3 linked regions of the Homo sapiens genome follow. The main gene of each other region encodes a partner of the protein of the gene in region 3 in a complex. Each region holds a gene or a part of one and is shown on either strand. Other genes may lie near its edges.

What was found.
Region 1: LAMTOR5 (region 3) and LAMTOR3 share a complex: the UniProt entries of both Homo sapiens proteins name them as parts of the ragulator complex.
Region 2: LAMTOR5 (region 3) and LAMTOR1 share a complex: the UniProt entries of both Homo sapiens proteins name them as parts of the ragulator complex.

What each region holds. Positions count from the first base shown.
Region 1 is NC_000004.12:99,880,735-99,884,487, forward strand, and holds part of LAMTOR3 (ragulator complex protein LAMTOR3), read right to left. Parts: intron 3,392-3,753; coding exon 3,328-3,391; intron 1,334-3,327; coding exon 1,260-1,333; 3' UTR 1-1,259. UniProt on the Homo sapiens protein: As part of the Ragulator complex it is involved in amino acid sensing and activation of mTORC1, a signaling complex promoting cell growth in response to growth factors, energy levels, and amino acids.
Region 2 is NC_000011.10:72,096,792-72,100,450, forward strand, and holds the end of LAMTOR1 (ragulator complex protein LAMTOR1), read right to left. Parts: intron 2,466-3,659; coding exon 2,320-2,465; intron 2,068-2,319; coding exon 1,990-2,067; intron 1,625-1,989; coding exon 1,498-1,624; intron 1,124-1,497; coding exon 1,031-1,123; 3' UTR 501-1,030; downstream 1-500. UniProt on the Homo sapiens protein: Key component of the Ragulator complex, a multiprotein complex involved in amino acid sensing and activation of mTORC1, a signaling complex promoting cell growth in response to growth factors, energy levels, and amino acids.
Region 3 is NC_000001.11:110,401,095-110,404,847, forward strand, and holds the end of LAMTOR5 (ragulator complex protein LAMTOR5), read right to left. Parts: intron 2,943-3,753; coding exon 2,825-2,942; intron 490-2,824; coding exon 429-489; 3' UTR 159-428; downstream 1-158. UniProt on the Homo sapiens protein: As part of the Ragulator complex it is involved in amino acid sensing and activation of mTORC1, a signaling complex promoting cell growth in response to growth factors, energy levels, and amino acids.

The sequences.
Region 1 (3,753 bases), on a different chromosome or scaffold from region 3:
GTGCTTCTTAGAATTGTGCAATGTGATAGCTCGGCTGACTGGCACACAGGTGCTCAATGCATATGTACTGAACTGATCCAGGGAAAAACTGATTGTCAAAGAGCCTAGAAAGAAATTAACTCTGAATGATAGACTGCATTCCTGAACATAAAGGGTATATTCTAGAACTGTAGTACCTCTTTCATGGAGATTAAATTAGGTTCATGCCTGAGGTTTCTTGGTTTCTTTTCTTTTTTGTTTTTGAGACGGAGTCTCTGTTGCCCAGGCTGGGGTGCAGTGGCACAATCTTGGCTGACTGCAATCTCAGGTTTCTTTTCCAGTTAACAGTTCATACTACCGTAAAACAATCTCCAAACCAATACCTACAAGAAACACTCATTATTTATTCATGTGGCTGAAAGAGTATATTAATTATGTTTAGATTTTTGGAAAAAGTCTGAACAAAAAAAGGACCTATACAGTGCTCAAACTATATTTTTAAAAATACTATTTTATTTTTACTCACATATGAAAAAAATGGCTGTACTATCATGTTTACATACATACTAACATTGGAAACAGAATAACGAATTGTATTTAAATTTTATGAAGAACACACAAACATTAAAACACTGATTGGTTACAGAAAGCAGAGTTTGAGGAAAAAACATTAGCTATAATTTTCATTTTCATTAAAGAGCAGCACCCTCTGAGAATAATCAAACTGATTAGTAATATTCATCTATACTGCAAAATAATATGTACAAAGGAAAGTTAGTGATTGTACTGATTTTATTACTTTTACCAAGCCATTTTATGTTCCTCACTCAATGCAAAGAAATAAAACATAATCTGAAGAAAAATATGTCCTTATTATTATTCACAATAAAAAGTTGGCTTTATTCTGCAAGCCTGGGCATATTGTACAATTGGCAGCACTTAACGGCTCAAGTGGATCAATGTACCAGTTTGATTCTGATCCACTGAATAGAATCTCTCATCCATATCTGGTGACCAGACTAACTCCATGGGAGCTGTGATAGACTGAACCATTTCTGTGGTATCCCTAGATCTCACTAAATAAGAAAGACCCTACACCAGAAAATATAGCAACTGATCTATCTATAAATTACATCTATATGCTAGCTCTTTAGTATAAGTTGGAAAAAGGGGCCCTTTCTTGAGCACATGGATAAAAGTATTATTGTAGTCTAAAGATTGCTGGATTGATATTGTGTTGTTATAATGAAGATAAGGTACACACTGAAACCACTGTCAGATTAAGAAACTTCCACAACTTGTCTCAGTTCTTCAAACAATGGAGCAAGTTCCTTTTCTAGGCTGACAATTAGTCCTAAAATAAAGAGATTAAGAAAATTACATGTTAGAAAAATGTTCCTCAAAGCCTGAAACTCAGATTTCCTTATGTCCAAAATACATAGTTACCAAAAGTAAATCAGAACATAGTTTATTTCCCATGACTGAAACAAAATACAGGTTGAATATCCCTTATCCAAAATGCTGGGTATCAGAAGTGTTTTGAATTCTGGAATATTTGTACAATACTTACTATTTGAGCATCCCTAACCCAAAAATCTCAAATATGAAATGCTCCAGTGAGCATTTTCTTTGAATGCCATATTAGTGCTCAGAAAGTTTCAGACTTTAGAATGTTTTGGATTTCAAATTTTTGGATTAGGGATGTTCAACCTGTACTATAACCCTAAATAAAGCAACCAAAAACTTTGTAGTCATTAATAAGTTTATTTTCAGCATCTATTACTAAAGTGAATGAGTGAAAAATACTTATATATTAGGAAATACAGAATAAATTATATGCACTATAATTTGTTAAGAGTTTTGAAAGGAAAATCTTAATTTATACCTTACTGCTTCAAAATTTGCCTTGACTCAGAAATAATACATATGATTTTTACTAAATAAAGCATACTTTTGTCTCTAAGCAAATTTTAACAGATTATATCAAAAGATAGGTGCTTCTATATTGAACAAAGAAAATCAGAAATTTATTTTTATAAATTTGACAAAGCTAAGACATAAATAAATATTTCAAATGAAAAAATATTTTAAAAATAAATGGTAGAGTACAAAACACACTGGAGTTCAATGATGAACCTGGGAGATAAACATCTAGAAATAAGCATATCTTGCTTCTCCTTAGTTTACTAGAGTGAAAGGCTATCTGCCTCAAACAGAGCCTGTTTTATGTTCAAACAAATAAAGATCTTTCTCTGTCTTATAGAATATAAAAAGCATCTGAACTCTCAAGGAAAGGGTCCAAGTACTAAAATATTGTTCTGTACATTATCATAGTATATAACAACTGGTGACTTAGTATGTGATGATAGGTGATTTATCAAAACTCAGATTTAGTATATTTCCTAAATATACTTAAAATCTTAACACCATTACTATCCTATATAATTCAGAAAGTGTTTTTACATACAGTATTTTACAGATTCCTAAAATGTTTTGAAATGGAAGAGATCTAATAGATCATCAAATCTAAACCTCTCATTCTAAAGATGAGGTATCTAAGAACAGGCTTCAGTGACATAGCTAGAAGAACTTGCTCAGTTTGGAAGAAAAAACAAATAGAAAAAAATATATTACAATTCTCAACAGCAATCAAATCTAAAGGAGACAGACCTTTTAATAAAAATCCTACTTTATATAAAATGAAGTAAAAAAATTACAACCAAGTGAATAGTCATTATTTTACACATAAATATCCAGTGAAGGTATTGGATACAATGGAATTTTACTATTCTCTATAAAGGGTACAGCTTCCTAGCATTTGTTCTCAAATTCTTCAGTTCTCAAGAAGAGTGAGACTATGTTCATCCTATTCATGCTCTTTAAATTCTCAATCACATTCATTTTCCCCATTAGGTAAAATTTAAAAAATTCTAATTTAATAGATTGGTCTGTAACTCATCGATCATTTTAATGCGTTTTGTTGGGTTATCTTCACCTTGTTTTCTTAAACTGCTGTAATGGGAGCAAGATGTAGCACTCAGATAACATTTAATTTTCCTGTCTCCAAAAAAAAAAAAAAAAAATCACTTACCCATACACTGTCTCATTTGAACTAGAAAATAACATTGTAAGATGGAGAAAGCATATATTATCTCCATTATACAGATATGGAAACCAGGATTCAGAGAAATCACTTTTCCCAAGACATGGAAAAAAGACAGTGAAACTGGGCCACAAGTTCAAGATTTTTGGCTCTAAATCTACTATTCCTCTTAAATTAAGGTATGGTAATTAAATTAATTTTTTAAAATTAAGGATTAAAGTGATATTTAAGGTCATTAAACACACCTGTATTGGCACTGCTGCTGGCTATGAAACTCACCACCAAAGGTAAACGATTAAATTGAACCACCTAAAAAGAAAATAAGAGCCAAATAATATGTTGCATTATGAAAAGGTAGTATAACTAAACTGAAATGTCTTAATCTTTCAAAAACTTTAAAATCATCAATGTTTTAGCCCAACATTATGGTATTATATTATGAAACAGAAAGGAACTTTATATTTCAGTGAATATTTCCATAAAACAGAATTAGTGATGATCTCTTAGAGACATTAATACCATTTGGCCTGGAAAGTTTTTAAGGTGAAACCATATCTTCATCTTTTTATCTCTAAAGCCCAACAGAATATCAATTACATTGTAAGGACTTAATAAATAGTTGATAATTAAATGGATAAATGCAGTATTTCTCAGTTATTCAAGTAGTTTTA
Region 2 (3,659 bases), on a different chromosome or scaffold from region 3:
AAACCAGCCCCCACTTCAATCAGATCAAAGTAATTCCATTCTGTTTTATATGCTGGGATTCTGCTTAAGATTTCATTTGATAAAAAGAATCTTCTGCTTAAAAACATTTGCTTGCTGACTCCATATTAGGTATTCCCAGAAGAGCCTGGTCTGCTTTCTCTCTCCACCCCCCAACCCGCCATGTCTCCCTTCACCCCCAGGGGCTGTTGGTAATTCCATTGAGTCTGAGGCAGGGCCCCCAAGAATCAAAGCTGCCTCAGATTCAGGTCTGTTCAGCTTTGACAGTGTTCCCATCATCACTGGACAAGGGACAAGAACAGTCTCATCCAGTCTGAGGTTAGCCCAAGCCAGGTCTCAGCTAAGAGCTGACACCCTAAACCCTTGTCTCTTGGGTTCATCTTCAATATCCCTGGAAGATGTCCCCTTCCCCCCATCTTACTCTCATAGACCTAAGTAATCAAAAGTAGAATGGGTAGAACAGAGGGGCCAGAACCAGCACATGGATGAATATACTTCCTTTATCGAGGGTGACAAACCAAAACAAAAAAAGACCAAACATGTAAAAACCCAGGGTTCTAGAAATACAAACTCAATTCATTCAAATTCAAGCTCATCCAGACCCTGGTCACAAACCCTAGTGAGGTGCATGTGAGCACCAAGTCAGGGAGAGGGGGCAGGAGTGACTCTGAGGCCAACAGAGAGGGTGGGAAGGGGATCTCCCTAGGTCCCCTGGTGATCACCCCCCACCCAAACTGGTATCTCCACATTCTCAATGACTATGAAGACATACCAGGCTCTGTCCTTTTGGCCCCCACCCCATCCCTGGCCAGAGCTTCAAAGGCCAGTCCCAAAAGGTTCTACCCTCACTTGCTCAGGCTTCTAGCCTTCCTCTTCTCCTCCTTCTTCACATTTTTCTCTGTGATTAGTAGCAGGTTAGGGTACTGTATAAGCCGCAGTGAGGCTGGGGGCCAAGGGGGTGGGGTAGAGATGGGATGAAGAGAGGAGAAGAGCTGTCCAAGGACCCCTCTCTTCATGGGATCCCAAACTGTACAACCAGCTCCTCTTTTGCGTCCACACGGATCTGAGAAAGTGCACTGTAGGCATAAGCAGCTATCCTGGAGACCTGAGACAGAGAGGGGCCGGGGAGGAGAGGAACAGAGACAGGTGAGGAGGGCAATCAGGAAAAATGGGGAGGGGAGATTAGATGGTGATGGAGAAGGAGGGAATGAAGGGGAACAGGAAGGCAAAGAGAAAGACAGGGATGGGAGAGACAGAAGGAAAAGAACAAAGGGGAGTGAAACAATAAAGGTTGCAGGAAGGAGATAGGAAAGACATAAAAAGTTAAGAGAACGAGGTGGGAGGGAGCTGGGGCCTACAAGGCTACCAGGCTCCCTAACTCCACCTTCCCTACCTCCTCTGAGGCAGAGTGGGTGAACCCTCTGCCATACCCTGGGCAGTGTGAGAAGGGTGGGCAGGGGCAGGTGAGGGGTGTCTCACCTGCTGCAAATCAGAGAACGGGATGGGCTCACTGGCCAGCACTTGGTGGGGCTGGCTGGTAAGAGACGGCAGCGGTGGCAGCTTCTTCCAATGGGTCAGGCTGCTGCTCAGCACAGCCAAGCGGGTGCTGACCAAGAGAGAGGGGGTGGGGGTAGGCAGTTAAGCCACAGTCTGCCCTGCCCAGCCCAGGTAAGCCTCATCCCCTCAGGCCAGAGAAGCAGGGTGTCGAGGAGGGGTATCTGGGAGGGAAGGTCTCAGCTCATCACAGACTCAATCTAGGCCCATCTCCCTTGGCCTCAGCGCCCTCAAGAGTGTCACAGGGTAAACAGGGCTGACATGAATAACTACTGAAGCACCCAAGTGATCTGTGGTCAGTCTCCAGGGCTGCACCAAATGAGAAGCTTGGACTAGGGGCCAGGCTCCAAAGCTGGAACAGTGATGGAGGGTGGGAGCCCAAGTAGCCTGAGGGACCCACGCTGGCCAGGTGCTCACCTGTACTGCCTGGCACGGTCCATGTACTCATGCTGCTCCATGCCCTGTGAGTCTGCAGCAGACACATCAATGATGTTGCTATGGGGAGAGGAGACAGAGATGACATGACAGGTGCTTCCGAGAAGGACAAACAGGACTCAGTGCCAGGTACCAACTCCAGGGCTATCTGACACCAGTTTCCCTCCTGCCTACTGGAGCAGGGCTGGACATGGAGGCACCTCTCCCCAGTGACCTTGTCCCATCCCCCATGTCCTGAGCCTGGCTCCTTCTATCCTAGCCTTTAATATGGATAGAGGAGCTCTGACCCAGGCCTGGTCCTCTGACACTTACCTGGCTGTCTTGGCAAGGATGGAAGAGAGCAGGGCCTGCTCATCAGTGCGAGCGGAAGGCAGGCTGTGGTAGTTGGGCTCGGCTCCATTGAGAGCTTTGGTAGGGGGGCTGCTAGGGTCCAGCAGCAGCTTCCGCTCCTCTCGGTCCTAGAAGTGGTCATGGGAGAGAAGTCAGCCCCAGGACCCGTAGATCCTGCCTTTCACGGGTGCTACCCTTAGCCCAGCTCTGACCTTAAACACCAAAAATGTTTCTATAAGGAATATCTAAAGTGCCCAGCTTTATGGAATGCCAGATAAGACTCAGTTCCTGCCTATCCTTGGGAGCTCAACTGAGTTGGTGTTCTAGGATAAATGAGAGTGGAACCAGGCAGTCCTAGAGGCCCTGAAAAAATGGACAGAGGCACAAAGCAGGTAGTCAGCAACAGCCCTGGAGCTTGAAAAACATTCTAGGACCTGGCAAAGAAAGGATACTAGAGGCTGGAAGACAGTGGAGCTGAGACATAGCAAGCACTGGGATCTAAAGGGGAAATCAGTGCAAGTCAAGAGCCCAAGAACAGCCTTCCTCATCCCCTAGGACCAGGCCTTCCCCAGCAAAGCTGTTCGCTTCCAAGATGGAAGCCCTGGCGAGTCCAGACAAAGCCCTAGGCCCCAAGAGAAAGCAAGCCCAACCTCTCCATGGCCATTTCTCAAATTATGTCAGGGCAGGAATCCCAGCCCAGCTCTGGGTCACACAGTACAAGTGTGTTCCCTTCTTGAAGGCAGGTCCCTTCGAAGGTGTTCACCCTCCTGTGCTCTGGTGCTCTTTTTGTACGTGACTCCCAGAACCAAACTGAGTGTACATGGTGTATCCTGATCTGAGCAGTACAGCTGTAGCCATGTATGGTGATTCACACCAGTAATCCCAACACTTTGGGAGCCCAAGGCAGAAGGATTGCTTGAGTCCAGGAGTTTGAGACCAGCCTGGGCAACAAAGCAAGACCTCGTCTTTGCAAAAAAAAAAAATTAGCTGGACTTGGTAGTGTGAGCCCTGCAGTCCCACCTACTTGGGAGGCTGAAGTGCAACGACTGTATGAACCCAGGGTTTGAGGCTGCAGTGAGCTAGGACTGTGCCACTGTACTCCAGTCTGGGCAAGAGAGCAAGACCCCATCTCAAAACAAACAACAATGGCGCTGTTCCCTCCCTTGCTAAACCACCTGAGTAGCCCATGTAAATTTTCAGCAGCCCTGTTCCTGCTGGCCTGTGCTGATAATCACAACCCCTGAACTAATGTAAGACCAAACCAAGCTTCCTCATTGGTTTGGTCTTCCTCCTTGTCCTCTTTCAGTCCCCTGTTCTATCTA
Region 3 (3,753 bases):
AGGGGTGGGATCCATGGACATACCTGTGAGAATGTAGGTATTTCAGGAAGCTTCTTAAACAAAAGTAATTTAGAACAAAGACCTTTTAAAAAAATTACAGTTTGATAACTGAACAAAAGGAACATTTGGTTAAGTTTAAAGAATCTAGAAAAGATCCATTTTCCTCCAAACAGATTTATTGAATACAGCAAAATTCTATATACAAAGTGACCTGGACCTGCTGCTTCAAAACATGATCCTTTCTTACTAATATCTTGATAGTCGGTCCATAGAGCATTAGAAAGCAATTGACTCTTAAATAAACAGAAAAGTGCCTAATGCACATTAAATGAATGGCCTAACTACTGGAACTTTAGTAGTTCTATAAGGTAATTAACATAGGTAGGATCCAGTTCCTATGACAGGCTGCTGAAGAACAGATATGAGCATCAAGAGGCCATTTTGTGCACTGCCACCGTGATGCCATCGTGTTTCTGGATCATAATGTTCCTGAAATGCAGGAAGAAAATATTCAGTAAAACGTAATCAGTGGGACTTCACTGCAAGATTAAAGATGTTGTTTGCTTTAGGATACAATATTTAAAATAATGTAATTGTTTCTACGTATAAAAGCAATATTTAAACATAACAAAACATTTGGGAAATACATAAACATATAGCATGTGAACACGAAATGAATCCTTAATCCTACTACACACAGACAACCACTGTTAATATTTCCCTGGTTCTTTGTTTCGGTTTTTTAGGCACTGTCTTGCTATGTTGCCCAAGCTGGCCTCAAACTCCTGGGCTCAAGCAATCCTGCTTCAGCCACCTCAGTAGCTGGAACTACAAAAAAAAGGCTTTACTGGTCTTTGTTTTCTTTGCATGTATATGATACAGTCATGTGCTGCATAACAATGCTTCAGTCAACAGTGGACCCTACATATGATGGTGGTCCCGTAAGATTATAATGGAACTGAAAAATTCCTATTGCCTAGTGACCTTTTAACCGTCCCAGCATCACATAGCACAACACACTACTCACATGTTTGTGGTAATGCTGGTGTAAACAAATTGTGCTGCCAGTCATAAAAAGTATAGCACATACAATTATGTACAGTACGTAACGCTTGATAATAATAAATGACTATGCTATGGTTTATGTATTTACTATACTTTTTTTCTTTTTTTTGAGACGGAGTCTTGCTCTGTTGCCCAGGCTGGAGGGCAGTGGCGTGATCTCAGCTCACTGCAACCTCTGCCTCCCGGGTTCAAGCAATTCTCCTGCCTCAGCCTCCTGAGTAGCTAGGATTACAGGTGCCTGCCACCATGCCTAATTTTTGTATTTTTAGTAGAGACAGGGTTTCACCATGTTGGTTAGGCTGTCTCACACTCCTTACCTCAAGTGATCTGCCCGCCTTGGCCTCCCAAAGTGCTGGGATTACAAGTGTGAGCCACCATGCCGGGCCTACTTTTTATCATTATTTTAGAGTATACTACTCCTACTTATTAAGACAAGGTTAACTATAAAACAGCCTCAGACAGGTCCTTTAGGAGGTATTCCAGAAGGTATCATCATTACAGGAGATGACAACTCCATGCATGTTACTGCCCTGGATGACCTTCCAGTGGGAGAAGATGTGGAGATAGAAGCCAGTGATATTGATGATCCTGACCCTGTGCAGGCCTAGGCTAATGTGTGTTTCTTCTTTGCTTTTAACAAAAAAGTCTAAAAAGTAAAAAAGTTTAAAAAAAGAATTTTTGTACAGCTGTACAACTGTTTTAAGTGTTATTATAAAGTCAAAAAGTTTTATTGACTCACTCAGAGCAACTTCCAGTGTTGTAAGCTCCATTATGGTAAGTGCCCTATTCAGATATACCTTTTAAAAAATTTCCCTATACCATACTTTTACTGTATCTTCTCTACGTTTAGATACATAAATACCACTGTTATAACTGCCTACATTATTTAGGCTACAAATCTTTGTAGTCTAAGAGCAATACAGCCTAGGTGTGTAATAGGGTGTACCACCTAGGTTTAAGTACACTCTATGATGTTCATACAACAAAACTGCCTGACACATTTCTCAGAACATATCCCCATTGTTAAGCAATGCATGACTGTATGTTTTTTCTTTTTACAAGGCTGTGATAGTAGCAGTTGTATATATATACTTTTTTTCACATATTATTCTGAGGACCATCACTTGGAATATCTTTAGTAATTTTATTGCTTTAGAAGTAATTTTTGGCTGGGTGCAGTGACTCATTCCTGTAATCCCAGCACTTTGGGAGGCTGAGGCGGGCAAATTACTGGAGCCCAGGAGTTCGAGACCAGCCTGGGAAACATGGTGAAACCTCATCTCTACAAAAAAATACAAAAATTAGCTGGGTGTGGTAGTGTACACCTGTAGTCTCAGCTACAACTCGGGAGGCTGAGTTGGGTGAATCGCTTGAGCCCGGTGGGGTTGAAGTCACAGTGACCCATGATCACACCACTGTACTCCAGCCTGGTGCCAGAGCAACACCCTGCCTCAAAAAGAAAAAAAAAAAAAGTAATTTTTATTCTCTGATTAGTTTTCCTTTGTGCTATTTGTTACTTTCTTTTTGTTGGTAAACTGATAGCTTCTGCCAATTCTTATTCTTCATTTAAATAGCATTGTGGCCTGAGAGCACATTAGCTTTAGGGATCAACTTGTCTGTTCCTGTGATTCAAAAGATTAAGAACTTTTCCCAAAGTAGTCTGAATAAGGAATCACTGATGAACACAGGGCCGGCCCCCGCCAATTTTACCAGGAATTTTTCTGAACAAAAAGGAAAGGATCTGCTGAAATCTACTCACCCATTATCTGATTCTAGACACACCACAGGAATATCAGTGGGGTCAGAGGTTAGCTTAGCTGCTTGCTGGGCTAGAACAGATATCACTCCAGCATGCTCATCTGACAGGGTCCCGCGGCCTGGAAAATAGAGATGATATATGTCACCTGATTGCTCATAGAGTATTTCTGCTAAAATAAGCTAGCTGGCTGTTTTAAAATGTCTACAGAATTGTCTTTTTATTAATGTCTGTATTAGTCTGTATATATTATAGTAACTAAATCTCGGGTACAAAAGTACCTATAAATTCTAGGTACGAAAATTAATTACTAAGTGTACTTTACAATATATTTCTGTATATAAAGGCAACACAAAGTTAACTGTACCTGAAACCAAATCAGGTAATAGACATGCCACTATGGCAGAGCATTTGGATGTACTATTACTATACAAAACATTTTGACCAGATCCGATGCCGACGTTTGAGCCTTGAAGGTTTCTTGAAGGAACTCATTTAGTTTTAGATTTCCATACCTGAATTTCAGTCTTTCCATTAGTAAGCCTAGCAAATGCTTCCAAAAATTTACCCTTTTTCTCCCAAATGACTGATCTGCATGTTAAACATAACTGAGTTACACCGATTACCTCTTTCAGTTACCCTTCCAGCAAAAATTCAGAGCTTTAAACATTCCTGCATTAGGAGCAACAAGTCTTGGGTTTACTAGTTGTCACTAATTAACTGAATGCTTTACTTATTTACCTTTCCAAACTTATTTCCTCATGTGTAATTGCTACCATTTATTAAGTATTATGTCTCAGTTCTATGTAAGCATTTTATACATATTATATAACCTTAAAATATCGTGATTAGGCCGGGTGTAGTGGCTCATTCCTGTAATCCCGCACTTTGGGAGGCGGAGGTGGGTGGATCACCTGAGATAAGGAGTTCGA